7 linked regions of the Homo sapiens genome follow. The protein of the gene in region 1 purifies or fractionates together with the protein of each later gene. This does not show direct contact. Each region holds a gene or a part of one and is shown in the gene's direction. Other genes may lie near its edges.

Region 1 (3,500 bases):
TGTTGAATATGATGTTACTTGTAGGTTTTCTGTAGATTCCCTTTATCGAGTTGAGGAAATTCTCTTATATTCATAGTGTGTTGAGTGTTTTTTATCATGAAAGGGTGTTGATTTTTTTTTTAAAGATAGGGTCTTGTTCTGTCACCCAGGCTGGAGGGCAGTGGCATGATCATGGCTCACTGCAACCTCGAATTCCTGGGCTCAGGGGATCCTCCTACTTCATCCTCCTGAGTAGGTGAGACTACAGGCATGAGCCACCATGCCCAGCTAATTTTTTAATTTTTCTGTAGAGGTAGGGTCCTGCTTTGCTGCCCAGGCTGGTCTTAAACTCCAGGGCTCAAGCAATCCTGCCTCAGCCTCCCAAAGTGCTGAGATTACAGGGGTGAGTCACTGCACTGCACCCAGCTGTGTGGGATTTTTCAAATGCTTTTTTCCTTTAGATGATCATGTGTGGTTTTTTTCCTTTCATTTTGTTAATGTGGTATATTGATTTTCGTATGTTGAACCATCCTTGAATTCCTCAGATAAAGCACGCATATTCATGGCGTATTATCTCTTTATTATTATTATTTTTGTAGAGATGAGATTTCACTCTGTTGCCCAAGCTGGTCTCAAACTCCTGGGCTAAAGTGATCCTCCTGCCTCAGCCTCCGAAAGCGCTGGGATTATAGGCATGAGCCACTTGGCCCTATCTTTTTTCTTTTTCTTTTTTTTTTTTTTTGAGACAGAGTCTCACTCTGTCGCCGGGCTGGAGTGAGTGGCGCGATCTCGGCTCACTGCAACCTCCATCTCCCGGGTTCAAGCAATTCTCCTGCCTCAGCCTCCTGAGTAGCTGGGACTACAGGTGCCCGCCACTATGCCCAGCTAATTTTTTGTGTTTTTAGTTGAGACGGTGTTTTGCCATGTTGGACAGGCTGGTCTTGCACTCCTGACCTCGTGATTCACCCACCTTGGCCTCCCGAAGTGCTGGGATTACAGGCGTGAGCCACCGCAGCGAGCCTTATCTTTTTAACAGTTAAAAGTTTAAGGCCTTATCATGTAATAACATTGCTGGATTTGATTTGCTGCTGTTTTGTTGAGAATATTTGCATCTGTATTGATAAGGGATATTGGTCTGTAGTTTTCTTTTCTTGGCATGTCTTTGTATAGCTTTGATGCCAGCATAATATTGGCCTCATAGAATGAGTTAGGAAGTATTCTTTATATTATGGGAAGAGGTAAAAAGGGATTGGTGTTAATTCTTCTTCAAATGTTTGATAGAATTCAACAGTGAAGTGATATATACAATCATATATAGAGAGAGAGAGAGAGAGAGAGAGATGGACTTTTCTTTTGTTGGAAGTTTATTGACTATTGATTCAATTTCCTTATTGAAATTGACTTTTCTTTTTGGAAGCTAAAACGTATAACTGTAGTGAAAGTTTCTGAACTTTTCTTTCATTGGAAGTTTTTTGACTACTGATTCTTTATTTGTTATAGGTCTATTCAGATTTTCTGTTTCTTCTTGAGTCAGTTTGGTCTCGCTCTGTCGCCCAGGCTGGAGTGCAGTGGTGCCATCTTGGCTCACTGCAACTTCTACCTCCCGAGTTCAAGTGATTCTCCCACCTCAGCCTCCCCAGTATCTCGGACTACAGGCGCACGCCAGCATACCTGGCTAATTTTTGTATTTTTAGTAGGAACAGCATTTCACCATGTTGGCCAGGCTGGTCTCGAACTCCTGACCTCAGGTGATCCACCCGCCTCGGCCTCACAAAGTGCTGGGACTACAGACATAAGCCACCGCGTCCAGCCTTGAGTCAGTTTAGATAGTTTGCATGCATGTTTCTAGGAATTTGTCCATTTTGTTTATGTTATCTAATCTGTTACCATACAATTGTTCATAGTATCCTTTTATAGCCCTAGTTATTTCTGTAAGATCAGTAGTAATAGCTCCACTTTCTCTCTTGGTTTTAGCAATTTGAGTCATCTCTTTTCTTCCTCTTTTTTTTTTTTTGAGATGGAGTCTCACTGTGTCACCCAGGCTGGAGTGCAGTGGCATGATCTTGGCTCACTGCAACCCCTGCCTCCCAGGTTCAAGCAATTCTGCCTTAGCCTCCTGAGTAGCTGGGATTACAGGTGTGAGCCACCACACCCAGCTAGTTTTGTTTTGTTTTTTTGTTTTTGAGACGGAGTCTGTTTCTGTCTCCCAGGCTGGAGTGCAGTGGTGCAATCTCACTCATTGCAACCTCCGACTCCCAGATTCCAGCAATTCTCCTGCCTCAGCCTCCTGAGTAGCTGGAACTATAGGCGTGCACCACCACGCCTGGCTGATTTTTATATTTTTAGTAGAGATGGGATTTCACCATGTTGGCCAGGCTGGTCTTGGACTCCCTACCTGAGGTGATCCGCCCACCTTGGCCTCCCAAAGTGCTGGGATTATAGGCATGAGCCACCATGCCCAGCCAGTTTTTGTATTTTTAGTAGAGATGGGGTTTCTCCCTGTCGGCCAGGCTGGTCTTGAAATCCTGACCTCAGGTTATCCACCAGCCTTGGCCTCCCAAAGTGCTAGGATTACAGGCATGAGCCACCACGCATGGCCTGTCTTTTCTTCTTGGTCATTTTCGCTAAAGGTTTGTCAATTTTGTTGATCTTTTTTGTTGCTGATCTCTATTGTTTTCCCATTCTGTTTCATTTATTTCCATTTTAACCTTTGTTTCCTTTTTTCTGCTGGTTTGGGTTTAATTTGCTCTTTTTTTCCCCTAATTTTTCAAGGTATACAGTTAAGTTATTGATTTGAGATCTCTTTTTTCTTTTCTTTTTTTTTTTTTTTTTTTTTTTTTGGTTGCTGTTGAGATGGAGTCTCCCTCTGTCACCCAGACTGGAGTGCAGTGGCATGATCTCAGCTCACTGCAGCCTCCGCCGCCCAGGCGATTCTCCTGCCTCAGCCTCCTGAGTAGACGTTTCCCGGCCAAGGTGTTTCTTTTTGAATGTAAGCATTTACAGCTACAGATTTCCCTCTAAACACTGCTTTCACTGCATTCCATAAGATTGTTTTTTGTTGTTGTTTTGTTGTTTGAGACACAGTCTCACTCTGTTGCCGTTTGGAGAGCAGCGATGCGATCATAGCTCTGTAGCCTTGAGCTCCTGGACTCAATCAGTCCTCCTGCCTCAGCCTCCCAAGTAGCTGGGACTACAGGTGTACACCACTGCACCTAACTAATTTCTTTTATAAGTTTTTGCAGAGGCCAGGCACAGTGGCTCACACCTGTAATCCCAGCACTTTGGGAGGCCAAGGTGGGTGGATCACCTAAGGTCAGGAGTTCGAGACCAGCCTGGCCGACAGGGAGAAACCCCATCTCTACTAAAAATACAAAAATTAGCTGGGCGTGGTGGCAGGTGCCTGTAATCCCAGCTACTCAGGAGGCTGAGGCAGGAGAATCGCTTGAACCTGGGAGGCAGAGGTTGCAGTGAGCCAGGATCACACCATTGCACTCCAGCCTGGGTAACAAAAGCAAAACTCC
Region 2 (3,500 bases), on another chromosome or scaffold:
ACAGACGCTATGGTGAGTGTTCCTACTGGGCCATTATCTCCGGGTCACCTCCCGAGAGCTGTGGTGCCGCGAGCGTGGTCCCGCTGTGTCAGAAAAGCTGTAAAAAAACGGAAGGAGGAAAAGGCAGGTGCGCGGTGTCGGGCAGGAGACCACCGAGGCAGGCGCTATAGATGAGTGGTCCCACCAGGCCATCTCCGTCTCCAGCGACTGCCGTCCACCCTATGTCCAGCCTCCAAGGCCGAGGTTAGGTGGTAGCCGCAGTGAATCACTCGCGATTCGCACGTTACACACGATGGCGACATGTGGGGCCGCACCTGGGTTATAATATGAATATATCCTTGTATATAAATATGTGTTTGTAAAAACAAAAAAAAAAAGAGAAAAATTAATGAAAATGATTTACTGGAGCAGTGGGAATGAGATGGAAGGAGCGGAATAGGCAGGCCACTCACCCAATATGCTCCCTACATGGGTGTGTATTTATTTATTTATTGAGACGGAGTCTCGCTCTGTCGCCCACGCTGGAGTGCAGTGGCGCCATCTCCGCTCATTGCATCCTCCGCCTCCTGGGTTCAAGCTATTCTGCGTCAGCCTCTCGAGTAGCTAGGACTACAGGCGTGAGACACCGCGCTCGTCCCCTACATGGGTTATTTTGACACAGATCTGAATGACATCATTTTATCCATAAGTATTACAGTATATATCTATAAAGTAAGAATTTTTAACATAACTGCAAATGCCATTAATTAGTTAATAAGGGTTGCAAGTTGGTGATATTTAACTGTACCATTCCCTCTTTATTTATTAGGCGGAAGAGTGATACAAGAGGTACTTCTCATCTTCTACCTGGTTACCGCCTAATACAGCATTTAGGAAAGGCACAGAAGATGATTGTTTCCCTTTCCCAGTTTTCAAAATATTGAGTTGCTATCACTTGCATAGTTTTGACTTTTAAACCATGAAGATATTTTACATATTTGAAAAATAAAATTTAAAGCAAGCTGACTACAAAATAAATCTACTTGTATACCAAATTGCTAACCACAAGGAAAATTTTAATTTGAATAACTTTTGAACAAAGTCCTGCCACTGGATGGCTTTGATAGGATATATCCTAAGAACAAAAATAAATTTTGACTTTGGTGAGTTTGTTGGTAGAGGTGGTATATTGGTGTAGCAATTTTGGAACCATTTTGTGTGTATTGTAGAGGAGGTGAGGAAATACTTTAATGTGTTGGAAACCATGGGTTTGAACAGAAGATACGCATATGGAGTGGGGAATGGAAAGAAAACTTTGTGCTACATTTACTGTAAATTATATCTTATTGATTCAGTAAATTCAGGTGGAATACGGAAGTTCAAATTTAAAGATTACCCATGGACTCCTGACCTCAGGTGATCCACCCGCCTCGGCCGCCCAAAGTGCTGTGATTACAGGCGTGAGCCAGGAGTTTGAGACCAGCCTGGCCAACACGGTGAAACCCTGTCTCCACAAAAAATACAAAATTAGCCTGGCATGGTGGTGCACGCTTATAGTCCCAGCTACTTGGGAGGCTGAGGCACAAGAATCATTTGAACTCGGGAGGCAGAGATTGCAGTAAGCTGAAATCGCACCACTGCACTCCAGCGTGGGCAACAGAGCAAGACTCCATCTAAAAAATAAAAACAGAAATGGATTAGCCATGGACTCAAATGGATGCGGAGCCATGGGAACCCGTTTGTAATCCATTTGCTGTAATATTATCAAACATTCGGCTGAAGAAAGACAAAAGTACATGAGCTTTAGTATACTTTACTGAACTGTGTAATTCCTAATAGTGTATTTCCTTTTTTTCGAAGGTAGGAGTGGAAAGTCCATTGTTAACTACCTGGTGTTTTGTGTGTTTGAGGGTTAGGGAGCAGGGCAGCTGCCCCCTGTGTCTCAATTGTTGATTAGTATTTTGTGACTCAGGTAGGAAAACTTCTGGCTCAATTTGTCTGATATTTTTATGTCCCCCCCATAGACTGAGGCTGATGTGAATCCAAAGGCCTATCCCCTTGCCGATGCCCACCTCACCAAGAAGCTACTGGACCTCGTTCAGCAGTCATGTAACTATAAGCAGCTTCGGAAAGGAGCCAATGAGGGTAAGGCAGCCACAGGATGCTCTGGGGGAATGTTAAAGGCACCTGTTTCCATCTGGGGCCTCTGATCTGATTTCCAGTTTGGGAGGAGGGCTAGCTGCTCTCGACTACAACCAGTGGGAGGACTTTGGCATTAGATGCTAAAGCTGATGGGCTAAGAATTTTTTTTAGACCCACCAATTGTTAACATTTTGCCACATTTACCTTCTTTTTCACTCTATAAGTGAATTTTATTTTTGCTGAGCCATTTGAAAGCAGTTGTGGAGACTGTATAGTGGCTGTATGACCTCACCAGAGCCATCAGAAGGAAAGGGATATTAATGCTTTTTAGCATCCCTTATACGGTGGATACTTAACATTCATGAATTTCATTTGGTTCCCAGAAACATTCCCTACCCCTCTCCCTTTTTTTTTTGGATGCAATTATTCAAAAACATGGAACGTTTCACGAATTTGCATGTCATCCTTGTGCAGGGGTCATGCTAATCTTCTCTGTATTGTTCCAATTTTAGTATATGTACTGCTGAAGCGAGCACTACCTCCCTTTGTAAAAAAGGAAAAAAAAAAAGCTGTTTTTCAGTAGAATAATTATGTATGCATGATGCTTCTGCCCAGAGGTGATATAGGATACTCTCACTTTATTCATTATTATTTTTTTAATTTTATTTTATTTATTTATTTATTTTTTTATTTGGAGAGTTTTGCTCTTGTTGCCCAAGCTGGAGTGCCATGGCAGGATCTCAGCTTACTGCAACCTCCGCTTCCCGGGTTCAAATGATTCTCCTGCCTCAACCTCCCAAGTAGCTGGGATTACAGGCATGCACCACCACGTCCAGCTAATTTTGTATTTTTAGTAAAGATGGGGTTTCACTATGTTGGTCAGTCTGGTCTCGAACTCCTGATCTCAGGTGATCTACCTGCCTTGGCCTCCCAAAGTGCTGCTGGGATTACAGGCGTGAGACACTGTGCCCAGCCTTATTTTTATTTTTATTTTTTTTCAAGTAGAGACGAGGTTTCACCATGTTGGCCAGGCTGGTCTCGAACTCCTGACCTGAAGTGATCCGCCTGCCTTGGCCTCCCAAAATTCTGGGATTACAGGCGTGAGCCACTGTGCCCGGCTGCCCAGCCTTATTTTTATTTTATTTTATTTTTTTGGAGACAGAATCTCGCTCTGTCGCCCAGGCTGGTCTTAAACTCCTGAGCTCAGGCAATCTGCCTGCCTTGGCCTCCCAAAGTGTTAGGATAACAGCAGGCGTGAGCTACCATGCCCAGCCAGAATACTCTCATTTTAATAGATGCTGGGTAGTTTGATGTGGTAGAGCTCTTTTGTCGTTGAAGATTTTTAATGGAAACATCAGAGATTTTGTCAACTGTGTTTG
Region 3 (3,500 bases), on another chromosome or scaffold:
TACTGGGCCTCAGTCTAGAATCAGATATGATAATTGTGGGTCAAGGGTCCTGCCCTTTGAGTTAATTGGGCTATTTTCGATCCTCTCATAGAGTATGGTCCTGAGGCTGTTTATATCTTCCCACTTATCTAAGCCTAGAGTATTAGATAAACTGTAGTTCTAGGCAGAGATTGGCAGCAGTATTTTTTAGCTTCCTTTCAGCTCCAGCATCATTGCTGGCCTTGAGCAGTGGGTCTGGCCCAGATATCTCCGTTTCTTCATCCTCCTTTGCTTTCTGTCATTACTACCTGCAGGAAGTGCACACCTGGTCTAGACTCCGGATCCAGCAAGCCTAGAGCTTCAGTCCTGCTTGCAACTTTGTGTATCTATTCTGTTTCTCCAAATAGAGGTTTATCTTGTTTTTGAGCCTAATTAAAAAAAATTGTTAAAAAATATTTTATCCATTATTGTGTATTTAGAGCAGAGAGGATGCATCAAAGAATGTACTTACTGGCCACTTTCTAGAAGATTTAATTAGCCAAGCTCCTTTCTCAACTTTATACAAAGACTTTTTTCTTTGTTATGGCATTGCCTAGGCCTTCCAGTACAAGAATAAGTATAATAATGGGCATTTTAATCTTTTTCCTGAGTGGTAATGTTTCCAGTGTTTCACTGTTAGATATGATGTTTACTGTTGGTTTTTGGAAGATGTCTTTTGTCAATTTAAGGAAGTTTTCTTCTGTTCTTGGTAAATATTTTTAATTGGGTGTTGAATTTTATGGAGGCCTTTTTTTGGGGCATTTCTTGAAATTATTTTTTCCCTTCTTTAACATGTCAAGAATAGGACAGATCTCTCTGAGTTGTAGGTAACTGAGAGAAACAGATGTATATGATTTACTTGTTAATTCACTTTTAACAAAAAACCTCACAACCTTTAAAGAAAACACATTTTAAACTTGAATTTTTGTATACTAACATTATATATAAGTTAAAATAGGGCTGAAATGCTGTAGTAATCAGGTTTGGACTAAATATCATCGTAACTTCACTATATTTGAATAGTACCTAATAATATCAATAATAGTAGCTAACATTTATTGGGCTCTTACTGGATGCCATTGTGCTAAATGCTTTACATGATATTGATTTAAGAGTTACCACAGCCCCGTGAGGTTATTTAGCTACTCAGAACTCTTTGTTGTAGTGGAGTGCAGTTACTGAATTTTTTTATTGGAACCTAGAGAACTCTCTCAGATTTGTAAAAAGCAAATCTTTAAGGTTTTATGAACATTTATTTTCCCTGGCCTTTTTTTTTTTTTTTTAAATCTGAAAGAGAAGAGAAAAGAAGTATTAAAGGAAGAATATTTGAGAATTTTTCTGAAATAAGCAAGGAAGTTCTCTTTCAATAAAGTTTGGCTTGTTGTAACTAAGTGTTAATGAGAGTCTTAGTCATCACTAACTTTTTTTTTTTTTGAGACGGAGTCTTGCTCTGTCATCCAGGCTGGAGTGCAGTGGCACGATCTCAGCTCATTGTAACCTCTACCTCCTGGGTTCAAGGGATTCTCTTGCCTCAGCCTCCCAAGTAGCTGGGACTATAGGCGCATGTCACCATATCTGGCTATTTTTTTCTATTTTTATTAGAGACTGGGTTTCATTGTGTTAGCCAGGATGGTCTCCATCTCCTGACCTCGTGATCCACCCGCCTCAGCCTCCCAAGGTGCTGGGATTACAGGCATGAGCCACCGCGCCTGGCCCCTCACTGACTTCTTAATTAAATGGACATCCAAAGAAAAACTGACAGGGAGATGGTGGGAGGTGGTGAACTTACATAAGAAATTTCAATACTTGGATGCTTTGACGTAGCTGAGAGCTGGCAGGGTTAAGAAATTAACAAAAAGATGGAAAGGAAATAAAGGCTATTTAACACAAAGGCATGTACAGAGACATCCTGGAGACACTTCCAAAGCCTTCTCTCCTTTTCCTTTAGTCTTTACTGTGGGAGTTACGTAACTTCTGCGTGTAGACGTAGTCCAGGTGTGAAACACTCTATTTTCTATGAATAGAACAGAGTGTAAGAACTAACAAGGATCCAAACTTTTTGCTGCACTCTCTTCAGATCCTACTTAGCTCCATGATTTAAGGTCTGATCCAGCACCACAGTTTTGGGACCTGTGTTCTTTCCTTATTCCTTGAGGCCTCATGTTGCCCTGGAGGGGGCGATGTGACACAATAGAAAGAAAATGGGCTCTAGCGCTTTAGCATCGTCATGGTCAACTCCGCAGATTCCTAGCTTTGCAACTTCAGGCCAAGTTACCTGACCACTTAGACTTTAGTTTCCTCTCTACTTCTAACACCCCTAATCCTGAAAATCTCCTCAAGCTCAGCACGGTCTTGTCTTCTCACCTACTTTTAAAAAGAGCAATAGTCTCCAAAGTGGGAGGTATGTAAAATGATCCTCTAGGCAGGGTGTTACAAGAAAATATGAGCAATCAAGTTTTACCAGTATTTGACCCATAGGTTGACACTTTACTTCATCTGTGTGTCTGATGATGTCTGTCACGTACGGTAAGCTAGGGAACCCCACCGCCTGGAGGGGCTGATACTGTGATCCTCCTTATTTACCTGCTTATATTGTTTTAGCACATGTTTTAGTTCACCTCTGCTGGGTTTAGTGGTCTTTCAGATCATATTACCTGATTTGAATAAAATGAACTTTGCTAAATAGACAGATGGCTCACAAAGATTCCTGCAAAGAAAATGCAGATTGAAGTTTCAGAGTCAGCAGAAGATTGAAGTAATAATACAAATACACGTGAACAGCCAGAAAGAAACAGAGTGGATACTTCTATTTATATTATGAACTTGTCAGTCAAATGCATAATATAAAAACAATGGTGATCTCATCAGATTGATGAAAAAGCAGTAATAAAAAATAGCTTAGAATTACTAAAAATACTATTTAAAATATGGACTTATATACACTGTTGAGTACATTGTACCTGAAGGTATTTACTAATGATATTATGGGCTAATCTTATAAATTGAGATATTTAAAAACTAAATATTCAGAATATAAAGACAGACTTATTGATGTTTTTCAGTGATTGTCAGTCATAATCCAGTACCTTAAAATTTTATTAAGGTTAATAATACATTTTTAGAAGTTCCTTTTGAGGTTTAGGAATAAAAGACAAAAAGTCATAAACTCTTGTTCTTCTTGTTTGGTAACAGTGGCTGAAATGATATATAGATAAATAATTTGAGTTTGGTGTAAAACTGAAAAGTATCCTGTATTAGCAACTGTTGTTGAGATACTGGTAGAACACGTTGCTGAAGATTTTGAAATGATGGCTATTGTACCAAATTTTAGAGTTCATGGGAGTTCATGTATATTTGGATAAAAGTACAGAGCTTATGGTATTTGGTATACTCTGTTTCAATAATAAAATATATGGAAATATATGGAGAACTGTGCTCCCCACCCCCGCTAAAACACTCAGGATAAGACTTACCAGAGAATT
Region 4 (3,500 bases), on another chromosome or scaffold:
TATCTCTGTCAGGTATGACATTAATTACCAGGTGGTATTATACTCTACTTTGAGTTTGGACATCACTTTCAGTTAAATTTCTGTTGTTATTGTGGCTTTTTTTTTTTTTTAACCCCACTGAAGATGGAAGTAGAGCAGTCTGCCATCTCCTGCTGTTCTTTCTCTGTGCCCCCTAATTGCTTGGTAATCTAAAATTATTCTGACTTTCCACATACTGTCTTTAAAAACCAATTGTAGCAATCTGCCCGCCTCCACCCTTTAAGCTAAATCTTTCACTGTGCTGGATACATAGACACTCGATAAATGTGTGATGATAGTTCTAAAATAATTATGCTATATATCAGGGTTCTGTATTTTTGAGCAATATCATTATTCCTATGCTGTGATGTTAAATGGAATTTATTTTACACTAGTAATAGACTGCTTAAGTGGCTGATTTGAAACCTTTCTCTAAAAAAACAAAAACATCTGGCAGATGAGTGACACAAATTCATTCTCTTAAAGGATAGAATTTCAAGTTAAGGATAAGGCACAATAAATAGGCACATAGAGGACATCTGTTTTTGTTTTTGGTTTTGGTTTTGTTTTTTTTTGTCTCTCTGACTAGCTAAACTGCCAACTAGAAGAATGGTTGTTATGTAGTAACTCAGAAGAATCTTTTAATAAGTTTCTTCTTTTGTTTCAAAACAAACTTGAGCTTCATTTCTTGCCACCTCTATTCTTTCTTCCCACGTTGGGTGACTGAACTGATGCTTATTCTAGTTTTAGAAGAGGATCCACATTTAATGTAAGGCATAAATATGCCTTTTGCAAATTATTGCTTGTTCTCCAGTGAACATTTGATCATATTCAACAGAAATCCACCATATAAACCATAATCCTTGAATTGCCCCTTTTAAAATAGATTGGTTAAAACCAAAAACCTATAAGAGAGAAATGATATTTCATTGTATTGTAGGTTTGGGAATCCTGGTTAGATTTATAATTTCTGGCCGGGTGCGGTGGCTCATGCCTGTATTCCCAGTACTTTGGGAGCCCAAGGTGGGTGGATCACCTGAGGTAAGGAGTTTGAGACCAGCCTGGCCAACATGGTGAAACCCCATCTCTACTAAAAATACAAAAAGTTAGCTGGGCATGGTGGTGCGCGCCTGTGGTCCCAGCTACTCGGGAGGCTGAGGTGGGAGAATCCCTTGAACCCAGGAGGCAGAAGTTGCAGTGAGCTGAGATCATGCCATTGCACTCCAGCCTGGGCAACAGAGCGAGACTTCATCTCCAAAAAAAGAAAAAGAAGAAAAAGATTTATAATTTCTGAGTCCCCTAAGTCCCTTTCTCAGTTTGCAATAATCTTACGTCCATGCTATTGACACTAATTTTGAAACTGGAAAGCTAATTAATGACATATTCATGTGTTCTTTCATCTAATAAACATTTATTAATGTATAGTTCTACACCAGGCATTCTGAAGGGTCCAAAAGAAAGTTCCTGCCCTCTAGTAGCACATAATCCGTTATTTCTCAGCACACCATGCCATCTGTTTATCATTCAGCAGTTAAGTAATTCATCACTTCATATTTTTACCAAAGTATATTTACAAGTCTGTTTATCTGGATCTGGCAAACTGGAAAATGTTTGAAGGGATACTCAGGCTTTGATCCATGCCAACATGAAAGGACTCCAAGCACATTTAAGTAGGCTGGTCTTTTCATCATGCATGATTTTTTTTTTAGTGCAAATTTAGACTTTAGTTTGGGAAAGAGAACAGTATACAGTATCCTTTGTAAGATAAATCACAACAACAAAAATTAAGTTTTATTGCACAAAGTAGATAAATGAGAAAGTCTTTCTTAAAAAATGCTTCTTTAACTGTAACAGCAAAACTAAATGCATATTTTATCAACCCCTTATTTCTAATTGCTGTATTCATTTCCACCCTTAAACTATTTAAGCATTTCATCTGCTGAAAGTCCTTATATACATGGTAGACGGAATATTTCTCCATTAATGATAGATCAAAATGAAGATATTTAAAAATTAACAAAATCAGGCCAAGGCAGGAGGATCACTTTAGCCCAGGAGGTCCAGACCAGCCTGGGCAACACAGCGGGACCCCGACTCCATTTAAAAAATTAAAAAAAAAAAAAAAACTTTTAACATTTAAAAAATAAAAATTAACAAAATTTCACTTATTCCAGGACACGCTGGCATTTGGACTCAATGAAAAGGGCACCTAAAGAAAATAAGGCTGACTGAATGTTTTCCATAATTTTCACACAATAACAGTCCCTTTCTATCCAGCTTGCCTTCCATTTATCTCTAGGGTTAGCTTTTCAGGCAACATCCTTGGTCATTGCCCAGAAAGTACCTGAGCTATCAGTGATTGGAATGGCACAGGAAACCGAATCACATGGGTGCCCTCCCCTTGGTTTTCAAGTATCTTGGAGTTGTGCACAAAAATTAGGTCATGCCTTCAGTGTCTTGTTCTTTAAACCTACCCTTTGACAATCAGGTGCTAATGATTGTATACTATTAAAACCAGCACATAAGTATTGTAAATGTGTGTTCCTCCTAGGTTGGAAGAAATGTCTTTCCTTCTATCTGGGTCCTGTTAAAGCGGGTGTCAGTTGTGTCTTTTCACCTCGATTTGTGAATTAATAGAATTGGGGGGAGAGGAAATGATGATGTCAATTAAGTTTCAGGTTTGGCATGATCATCATTCTCGATGATATTCTCACTTTGTCGCAAATCTGCCCTTATCGTAAGAACAAGTTTCAGAATTTTCCCTCCACTATACGACTCCAGTATTATGTTTACAATCCATTGGATGAGTGCAGCATTATAAGACCTTGGTGCCCAGAAAAATCTGTCCTTTTTGGTACCAAACCTGAGGTCTTTTGGAAGATAATGTAGAAAACCACTACCTATTGAAGGCCTGTTTTGGCTAATCTGTGCAAACTCTGATGATACCTGCTTATGTGGATTCTTTTCCACACTGCTTTCATTTTTAAGTATAAAGACTTAGAAAACTAGAATAATGCTTTTACAAATAATTAAAAGTATGTGATGTTCTGGGTTTTTTCCTTCTTTTTAGAACCCTGTATTTAAACAAGCCTTCTTTTTAAGTCTTGTTTGAAATTTAAGTCTCAGATCTTCTGGATACCAAATCAAAAACCCAACGCGTAAAACAGGGCAGTATTTGTGTTCCTAATTTTAAAAAGCTTTATGTATACTCTATAAATATAGATGCATAAACAACACTTCCCCTTGAGTAGCACATCAACATACAGCATTGTACATTACAATGAAAATGTGTAACTTAAGGGTATTATATATATAAATACATATATACCTTTGTAACCTTTATACTGTAAATAAAAAAGTTGCTTTAGTCACGTGGGTTGTTTTTTTTTTCCAATTTTTAAAATGCTGAAATAGTTTTGAACCTACAGGAAAGTTACAAAAACAATACAAATCTTCTTCACCCAAACCTTCCAGTTGTTAAC
Region 5 (2,903 bases), on another chromosome or scaffold:
GTGGTGGCGCATACTTGTAATCCCAGCTACTCAGGAGGCTGAGGCAGTAGACGCTTGAACCCAGGAGGCAGAGGTTGCAGTGAGCCAAGATCACACCATTGCACTTCAACCTGGTCAACAGAGCGAGACTCCGTGTCAAAAAAAAAAAAAAAAAAGTTTTCTGCCCTCAAGTCTTCTGGGGAGGCAGATGTTTAAACCAACAATTGCAGGCAGTAAGATTAGTGCTGATAGAATCATGCACATGCAGGATGCCATAGGAGCATGGGGAAGAGCACCCAAATATGGGAGAAAGGGGCAGAGGGACATTGTAAACATCAACCCTGCAGTAGAAGACAGAGCAAAGCATGATTTCTCTTTTCTCTGGCCTGATTTAATTCTAAGGTCAGACGTTCAGCTTGATCATAACCTGTTTATAATTATGACTCAGACCATTTTTCCACTCTTGGATCATTGGCCATTAATGATGAGGGGTCTCAAACAACATGTCTCAGTGACACAGTAAAGCAGAAATTGGCTGAAAGCAAAGCTGTTTTTATTTCTAGCTTCAGTCAGCACATAATGCTTAAAACCTAAAGAGGAAAGTAAAAGCGTGTTACAATCTCTCAAACTTTATCAAGACAGGGCTTAGAACCTGACATCCTCCGCTATGGTCATTCCATTTTGAAATGTAGAAAATCCAACTTGTGGATGGTTTGTCTGTAAATGAGCTGAATGTGTGTGCGTGTTCATTATCAAGCACGATATGCTCACAAATGCACAGTACTTTAAGCCTTGTGCAAGAAAGATGCTTTCAGTAAACATATTTAAAAGGTTTTATTTTCCTTACTAATGGTACATGCCCCTGCAAGTTCATGGAGAAGAGAAAAACAAGTGTGGGTGAGCTGATGGAGGCTTCATCTTAGGTGAGGAGGCAGGAGAGACACCCTCCCTTCACTTGTGCCATCCCCACGCTTTGTCCTTAAGCTGTAGTGGTCCCAGGAGATAACCTGTTTACAGCAGCCCATTCAGTATTGAAAAATGAACTCCCTCCTGCAGAATGTTAGAAGAAACAACCTCAAAGACCTCAGGCCGCCTGTGGTCATTAGTATGTGGCAGCAAGATTGAACCTGCCTGCCTCCTACCTGTGTGAGCCTGTGGTGTGGGTGTGGTACCAAGGCCCTGGCTCTGGGCAGTCTGTTGGCTCCTGGTGTTCACTAAGGCGTGGGGTGACAGGCCATCTGGCCTCGCTCTGCCAGTCTGCAGTTCTCCCCAGCACTGCATTCATTTTTAGTGGTTTCTGATAGTCACACTGAATTCCTGGACACTTTCTTCTCTTCATTCTTAGTTATCTTTCTCCTTTTTCTCCTGGAACTGATAGTTTACACTAAAACTTTTGGCTGTGAGGACTTGATTATACACATTTCTAAAACCCATGAACCTTAATATCTGACACTGTTACTCTCATATGCACACACAACTAAAACATACCAACCTACTTCATTTCCTAGCTGCTAAGATACAAGGGGAGGGACAATAAAAGGTTAACTGCAGAATAGCCACCTATGTGTCAGGAAATGGAGGGAGGGGAGGCAATGTGTGAGTCCTTTTGGAGCTGGGACTCAATCCACAACAGAGACAGCTCAAGCAGGGCCCTGCCATGGTCCACACTGAGGTTTCCTCTGCAGTGGTGCTGTCCACTGAGGGGTTATGGTGTGAGGGCCCCTGGGAGCCACGCCTTGGACTTCTGAGTCTGCAGAGCACTCGGCTCCAGCCAGCTGGATGGCAGGTGGTCAGTGGAGCTGGTGACTGGTGGTTTCTGCAATGAGGTGTCAGATTAGCCTAAGGGAAGCCTCTTCAGCAAGTATCATGCCTGGATCCCGGTCTTGGTTGTTTTATGAGAGGCCGATATGAATTGCCATTGCCTCCCACAAAGAAAAATGGACAAAATATGGGACCACATCTTTGAGATGAAATGTGCCCAAAATGAAAAGTAACTTGAGTATCCCAAGTTAAACTTAATCATTAGCTGCAAATGGACGATTTTCAAATTTCAAATAGTGATTTTTGAAGATTTGCCCAAACTAGAGTACTATCCCTCTTCACACTAAGAGGCAGAAAGTGGTTTCACACACCCTTTTATTTAATCAGCTAAAGTGGGTGCGGTGACACACACCTGTAAACTCAACCACTAAGGAGACTGAGGCGGGAGGATTACTTGAGCCCAGGAGTTCGAGATCAGCCTGAGCAACATAACAAGACCCTGTCTCAAATAATACTTAGCTATTACCCATATTGCTTTTAGCCTGCTGCCAGGAGGGGAGAAATGTTATTGTTTGAACAGATGTCAGATGTGAGTAATGCTCAGCTGTGTTCAATGTAGAAAATTAATAAAAGTTCCAGGAGTCATCCTGGCTAGATCAAGAAGCACAGTTGATGTTTCTCTGTCACTCAGCTCTGCTGAACTACATGGATTTCATTCGTGGGCAAGCTCTTCCCTGTAGCAGATGCAGACTTCCAGCCTACCTGCCCTCCAGCTAAAGTGGTCTCATCCTCCTTGCTTGGTCCCTGTGCCCATCTGTGGGCTGGTTTTTACGGCCATGAGAATGTGGGGCTCTGATTGGCCAGGCCTCAGTCACACGCCCATTTCTGGAACTAAGAGCAAGGTTATCCCCACCTGAGCTGTATGGTCTAAGTGCAGAAGGAGGGGTCGTTCTCTGAAGGAAACCAGAGGAAAGGGGAAATGGAGCTGGACACAATGCCTATTACACAGGAAAACTTTTAGTCTGCCCCAACTTATAGAAAAATCCCTTTGGTACTTTCCTATTAGTAACAAATTTCTTGGAACACACCTCAGACTGACACTATGACTTTAAGCTATTGCTCTGGAATCCAGGAGGTTCTGGAGCAACCTGTGTGGGGATCAG
Region 6 (3,076 bases), on another chromosome or scaffold:
TCAGCAGTTCTTCTCTAAAAGCATTACTGATAGAGTTGGGAGCATCTATGATGGGGCATAGAGCTAAGAAGGAAAGCTGGTGGGATAAGGGTATAGAAGGCAGACGCCTGGGAAATGTGAGAAAAAAACAGCCAAGATAGGAAATATTTTCCCTGAGTTAGAGTTTCCAGGGTGGTGTTTTGCTGGATCCATTTCTGACTTGGTTTCTTCCTCTTTAATCTCCCAGGGGAGTTTGAAGAGGAATCAAAGCAGCCAGGGGTGTCTGAGCAGCAGCGCCATCAACTGAAGCACCGGGAACTTTTTCTTTCTCGGCAATTTGAATCATTACCAGCCACCCACATACGGTACAGGACAACTGGGGCCAGCATAGCCTGCGTGCACTTACGTAGAAGATGGAGAGAAGGAGGTGGTATTGAGAGATGCTGTGGGGAGGGAGAGTGGGGCTCACCGGGGTTTTCCAATCTCTCTCCTATAGGGGGAAATGCAGTGTGACCCTCTTGAATGAGACAGATATCTTGAGCCAGTACCTGGAAAAGGAGGTGAGAAAGAGATGTTGAGAGAAGAGCGAGGGGAATGGGTATTGCCCGCAAAAGAGAGGGGGAAAGGAGCACAATGATGAGGTACAGGGTTGCCAGACTGCCGGTCATGGAAACTCAGATACACCTCCCTCCCCGCCGCCTATGTGGATTGCTGCCTTGCTTACCTTGTCTCTCCCCAATTCCAGGACTGCTTTTTTTACTCACTGGTGTTTGACCCCGTGCAGAAGACACTTCTCGCTGATCAGGGCGAGATTAGAGTTGGTTGCAAATACCAAGCTGAGATCCCAGATCGCCTAGTAGAGGGTAAGCAACAGGACAAGACTGTACGGCTACCAGGTTGTCTAATTCCAAGGGGCACTTTAACATTATAGTCTCTGTGAATGGCGTCACCTGGGGTTGTGCAGTGCACTGTCTGCAGGGCTCTCTGCCATGACCCTGACAGAATGGGCCTGTAGGAACCTGAAAAGGGAAAATGGGAACAGTTGGGAAGAGAAGTCGGAGAGTTGATAGAATCCAAGCAGAAGAAGAGAAGGAGGAGGTGCTATTGTGAATGAAAAGACACCAACTGTTCCCCCCTGCCCTCTCCCTGTTGATGCCATTGTTCTTTTCCCCAGGAGAATCTGATAATCGGAACCAGCAGAAGATGGAGATGAAGGTCTGGGACCCAGACAACCCTCTCACAGACCGGCAGATCGACCAGTTTCTTGTGGTGGCCCGGTGAGGGGTGGGTGGATAGGGAAGATGGGCTGGGGGAGGTGTGGACATTGTTCTGAGTCCCATGGTTCTTAGAGATGGACTTTATTTCTTTCATTGCCATGGATGTTTTCCTTCTTTCTCCTTTGGCTTAATTTCCCAGCCCACTTGGGCTTTTGACTTTTCTTTCGCTTTTGACTTCTCAATTTCTCCCTTAGAGCTGTGGGAACCTTTGCAAGAGCCCTAGATTGTAGCAGCTCCATTCGGCAGCCAAGCTTGCACATGAGTGCAGCTGCTGCCTCCCGAGATATCACTCTGGTGAGCAGAAGTTGGTGGGTAGTTGGGCAGGCTGGGTTTTCTGGGGACTTGCAGAGCCTGGGAACAGAAGAGGAGGGTATCTCTGAGGGAGTGGGAGTGTTTTTTTTTTGTTTGTTTTGTTTTGTTTTGAGAGGAGTCTTGCTCTGTCGCCCAGGCTGGAGTGCAGTGGCGCAATCTCAGCTCACTGCAAGCTCCGCCTCCCGGGTTCACACCACTCTCCTGCCTCAGCCTCCCGAATAGCTGGGACTACAGGCACCCGCCACCACGCCTGGCTAATTTTTTGTATTTTTAGTAGAGACGGGGTTTCACCGTTTTAGCCAGGATGATCTCGATCTCCTGACCTCGTGATCTGCCCGCCTCCGCTTCCCAAAGTGCTGGGATTATGGGTGTGAGCCACCGCGCCCGGCCGGGAGTGGGAGTGTTTTAAGGAGCAGGAAGGGAGTGGTGCCAAAAGTTTCAGGTCCTCAGTTGCTCTCCATCTTCCCCATAGTTTCACGCCATGGATACCTTGCAAAGGAACGGCTACGACCTGGCTAAGGCCATGTCGACCCTGGTACCCCAGGGAGGCCCGGTGCTGTGTCGGGATGAGATGGAGGAATGGTCAGCCTCAGAGGCCATGCTATTTGAGGAGGCCCTAGAGAAGTATGGGAAGGACTTCAATGATATTCGCCAGGATTTTGTAAGTGGATGGCACTAGGAGGAGAAGTGGGAGAGATGACAGGTGAGGGAACCAGGACCTGGGGCCAGATGCCAGCTCATTCTTCCTCCCTCTGCCCCCCTTAGCTACCCTGGAAGTCACTTGCCAGCATAGTCCAGTTTTATTACATGTGGAAAACCACAGACCGGTATATTCAGCAGGTATTATCTGGGCTGGGGAGGGTGGACCATAGGCTACCTGCTGACCTCTGCCTTTGAAGTTGATGACATTCTCCCTGCTATGAGGCTCTGATCCTTCTCTTTCTTTTTACCTTCTTACAGAAAAGGTTGAAAGCTGCTGAAGCAGACAGCAAACTGAAACAGGTCTACATTCCCACCTAGTAAGTGTGGTGGGTAGGGGAGACCAGAGTGTTTTCCTTCCCTTCCCCTAACTTGTGCCTTCCTCAGTGATTGGGGGTGGGCAGGAGGTAGGGGCACACTGAGAGTGGAAATTGATTCTTTTCCTTGACCAGTTTCTTGTTTTTTTCCCTTCTCCTCGCCTTCCCCGTTAGCACTAAGCCAAACCCTAACCAGATCATTTCTGTGGGTTCAAAACCTGGCATGAATGGGGCTGGATTTCAGAAGGGCCTGACTTGTGAGAGTTGCCACAGTGAGTTACGGGGGCACTGGGATGGTGGGGATGGGTGGAAGGCCTGCTGTGGCTCAAGAATCTGAGGGGCTTAGGTAGTATGCTTCTTCCCTGTCCCCCTCCTCTCCGTACTCTACAGCCACACAGTCTGCTCAGTGGTATGCCTGGGGCCCACCTAACATGCAGTGCCGCCTCTGTGCTTCCTGTTGGATCTACTGGAAGAAGTATGGGGGACTGAAGA
Region 7 (3,500 bases), on another chromosome or scaffold:
TCCCCACTTGACTCTTAAAGAAGGTTCCTGGAGGGCCGGGTATAGTGGCTCATGCCCGTAATCCCAGCACTTTGGGAGGCTGAGGCAGGAGGATCACTTGAGCCCAGAAGTTCAAGACTTGCCTGGGCAACATAGCAAGCCCTTCTCTCTACAGAAAAATTTAAAAATTAGCCAGTTGTAGCAGTGTACATGTAGTCCCAGCCACTCGGGAGGCTGGAGTGGGAGGATCGCTTGAGCTCAGGAGGTTGAGGCTGCAGTGACCCATGATCATGCCACTGCACTCCACCCTGGGCAACAACAAGACCTCATCTCTTAAAAAGAAAAAAAAAAGGTTGCTAGGTGGTTTGAACAGTGAGAGAATAGTAAAGGCTTGCTCCCATCTTAGGGGAACTTTAATAACAGTGTTTAAAACTGTGTTAAAGTGTACTTTAAAAACAGTATTATCTCAACCATGTTTAAATTCTGATCTTTTTTTTTTTTTTTAACAGGTTAAGAAATATCCTCTCAGTTGTCGGTACTGATGCCTTGAAAAAGACCAAAAAGGATGATGAGAAGTCTAAAAAGTCCAAAGAAGAGGTAGAACATGTCTTTAACTTCACAGTATAAACATGAAGGAAATGAGGGGATAGGTCTCTCGTTTTCTGCTTTCAATGGTTTGTTTTGCTGAGATGTTGGGGGAAATGTTTTTGAAGGCTCTACCATTCAAGAAGAGTTGCTGGCAGTAGTTTTGGTTCCTTTGTAAGTATGAATGGAGCTAAGTGAGTTTTCCAGTCAGGAAAGAATCATGGCATTCCTGGTATAACCATGTAGTTACATATCATAGAAAAAAATTCAGTAGAAAGTCCTCTGCCTGATTTCATCCTATTACCGAATGAATTCACCTTCCTTCTGGGCAGTTAAAATGGAGAAATGACAGTTATAAGAGGAGTAGAATGCTTCAGATTTGACCTTTCTGCTCTTAATTTGCCTTTCAGTATCAGCAAACCTGGTATCATGAAGGACCAAATAGCTTGAAGGTGGCAAGACTATGGATTGCTAATTATTCGTTGCCCAGGTAAAGAGAGCCTCCAGTAGAAGAAAGAAGCATATTTTTTGTGTGTGTTTCCTCTCAGGAACTGAGTGCTGGATAATGACTATGGTTGTTAAATGAAATTGAGGGGTAGAGTAGGGATACATGTGGGTCCTTGTTTACAACCCTGTTGCTCCTGGTGATGGTGTTTCTGTGTCGCAGGGCAATGAAACGCTTGGAAGAGGCCCGACTCCATAAGGAGATTCCTGAGACAACAAGGACCTCCCAGATGCAAGAGCTGCACAAGTCTCTCCGGGTAAGATGCTCCCAGCAATTGTCCCACATCTTAAAGGTTCTTCATGTTTATTTGATTTTTCTACTTTGGCTCACCTCTGGGAAGGTAGAGGCAACTAGAGTGATTCCTCCCTGCTTAAGTTGAGCTGCTGTGACATGGAAGGAGCCATCAGTTAATGTGGCAGGAGCTTACTGTGCTTTGTATTCAGCAGAGGCCTATGGTTCTATTCTTTATTTCTCCCCGTTAATATGTCAGAGTTTCTCTGGGGTTTTCTGTTTATATTTAGCTGACTCAGAAGTTGTGATCCTAAGACTGTAGAAAACATCTGGGCACAGTGGCTCAGTCCTGTAATCCCAGCATTTTGGGAGGCAGAGGCAGGCGGATGACTTGAGCCTCAGGAGTTTGAGACCAGCCTGGTCAACATGGTGAAACCCTGTCTCTACTAAAAATACAAAAATTTGCCAGGTGTGATAGCATGTGCCTATAATCCCAGGTACTTGGGAGGCTGAGACGGGAGGATTGCTTGAACCCGGGAGGCGGAGGTTGCAGTGAGCCAAGATCACGCCACTACACTCCACCCTGGGCAACACAGCAAGACTCTGTCTCAAAAAAAAAAAAAAAAAAAGACTATAGAAAACAGCATGCTGGAGTTTCATATAACTTCATTTATCAATGTATGTGTCTTCTAACAGCAGCAACAAAACCATAGAAGAATCTTGGGATGGGTTAAAACTGAAAAGCTGCTTTGTTGTTCTTTTTATGGTGGAAAAGCAAAGGAGCTCTTAGATTAACCTATTAATGATCACCGTGTGTGTATTTTTTTTCTTTTTAAGTCTTTGAATAATTTTTGCAGTCAGATTGGGGATGATCGGCCTATCTCCTACTGTCACTTTAGTCCCAATTCCAAGATGCTGGCCACAGCTTGTTGGTAAGTTCCATTTTACAATGACATTTTTTCCTAAATGGGGAACAGGCTCAGGAAGAAAATTAGCATTTGCGTTAGACGTCTATTTCTACGTCCTCTTTCTCTGCTTCTCATGATCACACCAAACTACAGATGTCAGTCAGTGCTCTACCTGTTGTATAATACAATGTAGCCTTGGTTTAGCCGTTCTCGCTCTTCACCAGTGACCCCAGAGATCCATTACACAAAGCACTCTGTCACATTCTTGACACTAGTATTTTGGAACAGGTCCTGTAGTGAGTTTATAGACCAACTAGTATCCATAACTCAGTCTGGCTTTTCTTTTTCAGTTATGTGACCTCGCTAAGATACTTAATTTCTGTAAGCTTCAGTGTTCTTACCTGTAAAGTGGGATGAGGTAGTGTTTGCAAGGCATTTTGCCTTGACAGTGCCTGGTATGTAGTAAGGACTCGTTAAACGTTAATTATTGGTTTATCTTTGTTTTATTTTCTTATCACCACATATGCAGAAAACTCAGGATGTGGTAACTTTGTTGTTTTGTTTGAGTTTGGTTGTGTTTTTCTGTGGGACATGGCTATCTAATGAGAAAGGAAACTTAGATTGAATACACAGGAGCTACTTGACTAGGCTGACCTTTAGATGGGTTCAGGAGAAAGCCAAGGTTCTGCACAAATGAGTCCACCTCTCCAAGCCTCATTACCTTCACTATAAAGTTTGATCGTTCCTGCCGTACCTGCTTCACAGGTCTGTTAGAAAGATCATCCGAGATAATAGATATAAAAGTAATTTGTTGAAAAATTTCCAAAATAAGAAGTCTCTAAAAAGTTTAAGGCCAGCCAGCCATGGTGGCTCACACTTGTAATCCCAGCACTTTGGAAGGCCACGGCAGGAGGATCACTTGAGCCCAGGAGTTTGAGACCAGGCTGGGCAACAATAGTGAGACCCTGTCTCTACAAATTTTTTTTTTTTTTTTTTTTTTTTTTTTTTTTTTTTTTTTTTTTTTTTTTTTTGAGACGGAGTGTCACACTTTCGGCCAGGCTGGAGTGCAGTGGCGCGATCTCGGCTCACTGCAAGCTCCACCTCCTGGGTTCACGCCATTCTCCTACCTCAGCCTCCCAAGTAGCTGGGACTACAGGCACCCGCCACCGCACCCAGCTAATTTTTTGTATTTTTAGTAGAGACAGGGTTTCACCGTGTTAGCCAGGATGGGCTCGATCTCCTGACCTTGTGATCTGCCCGCCTTGGCCTCCCAAAGTGCTGGGATTACAGGT

The links.
Region 2: the proteins of ZGPAT (region 1) and SNU13 purify together in Homo sapiens (affinity purification with mass spectrometry, with the first as the bait; one large-scale study listed by BioGRID). This does not show direct contact.
Region 3: the proteins of ZGPAT (region 1) and DTNB purify together in Homo sapiens (affinity purification with mass spectrometry; one large-scale study listed by BioGRID and IntAct). This does not show direct contact.
Region 4: the proteins of ZGPAT (region 1) and SNTB2 purify together in Homo sapiens (affinity purification with mass spectrometry; one large-scale study listed by BioGRID and IntAct). This does not show direct contact.
Region 5: the proteins of ZGPAT (region 1) and LSM3 purify together in Homo sapiens (affinity purification with mass spectrometry; 2 studies listed by BioGRID and IntAct, with this or other methods). This does not show direct contact.
Region 6: the proteins of ZGPAT (region 1) and MTA2 purify together in Homo sapiens (affinity purification with western blotting; 2 studies listed by BioGRID and IntAct, with this or other methods). This does not show direct contact.
Region 7: the proteins of ZGPAT (region 1) and PRPF4 purify together in Homo sapiens (affinity purification with mass spectrometry; 5 studies listed by BioGRID and IntAct, with this or other methods). This does not show direct contact.

Annotation. Positions count from the first base shown.
Region 1 is NC_000020.11:63,714,539-63,718,038, forward strand, and holds part of ZGPAT (zinc finger CCCH-type with G patch domain-containing protein), read left to right. Parts: intron 1-3,500. UniProt on the Homo sapiens protein: Transcription repressor that specifically binds the 5'-GGAG[GA]A[GA]A-3' consensus sequence. Represses transcription by recruiting the chromatin multiprotein complex NuRD to target promoters.
Region 2 is NC_000022.11:41,678,868-41,682,367, reverse strand, and holds part of SNU13 (NHP2-like protein 1), read left to right. Parts: exon of another isoform or gene 1-9; coding exon of another isoform or gene 10-12; intron 13-2,003; coding exon 2,004-2,124; intron 2,125-3,500.
Region 3 is NC_000002.12:25,663,578-25,667,077, reverse strand, and holds part of DTNB (dystrobrevin beta), read left to right. Parts: intron 1-3,500.
Region 4 is NC_000016.10:69,305,664-69,309,163, forward strand, and holds the end of SNTB2 (beta-2-syntrophin), read left to right. Parts: 3' UTR 1-3,389; downstream 3,390-3,500. UniProt on the Homo sapiens protein: Adapter protein that binds to and probably organizes the subcellular localization of a variety of membrane proteins. May link various receptors to the actin cytoskeleton and the dystrophin glycoprotein complex.
Region 5 is NC_000003.12:14,198,720-14,201,622, forward strand, and holds the end of LSM3 (U6 snRNA-associated Sm-like protein LSm3), read left to right. Parts: 3' UTR 1-2,403; downstream 2,404-2,903. UniProt on the Homo sapiens protein: Plays a role in pre-mRNA splicing as component of the U4/U6-U5 tri-snRNP complex that is involved in spliceosome assembly, and as component of the precatalytic spliceosome (spliceosome B complex).
Region 6 is NC_000011.10:62,595,790-62,598,865, reverse strand, and holds part of MTA2 (metastasis-associated protein MTA2), read left to right. Parts: intron 1-226; coding exon 227-344; intron 345-475; coding exon 476-539; intron 540-724; coding exon 725-842; intron 843-1,153; coding exon 1,154-1,256; intron 1,257-1,450; coding exon 1,451-1,550; intron 1,551-2,040; coding exon 2,041-2,229; intron 2,230-2,333; coding exon 2,334-2,408; intron 2,409-2,528; coding exon 2,529-2,587; intron 2,588-2,758; coding exon 2,759-2,856; intron 2,857-2,974; coding exon 2,975-3,076. UniProt on the Homo sapiens protein: May function as a transcriptional coregulator. Acts as a component of the histone deacetylase NuRD complex which participates in the remodeling of chromatin.
Region 7 is NC_000009.12:113,282,158-113,285,657, forward strand, and holds part of PRPF4 (U4/U6 small nuclear ribonucleoprotein Prp4), read left to right. Parts: intron 1-488; coding exon 489-576; intron 577-974; coding exon 975-1,054; intron 1,055-1,231; coding exon 1,232-1,325; intron 1,326-2,137; coding exon 2,138-2,232; intron 2,233-3,500. UniProt on the Homo sapiens protein: Plays a role in pre-mRNA splicing as component of the U4/U6-U5 tri-snRNP complex that is involved in spliceosome assembly, and as component of the precatalytic spliceosome (spliceosome B complex).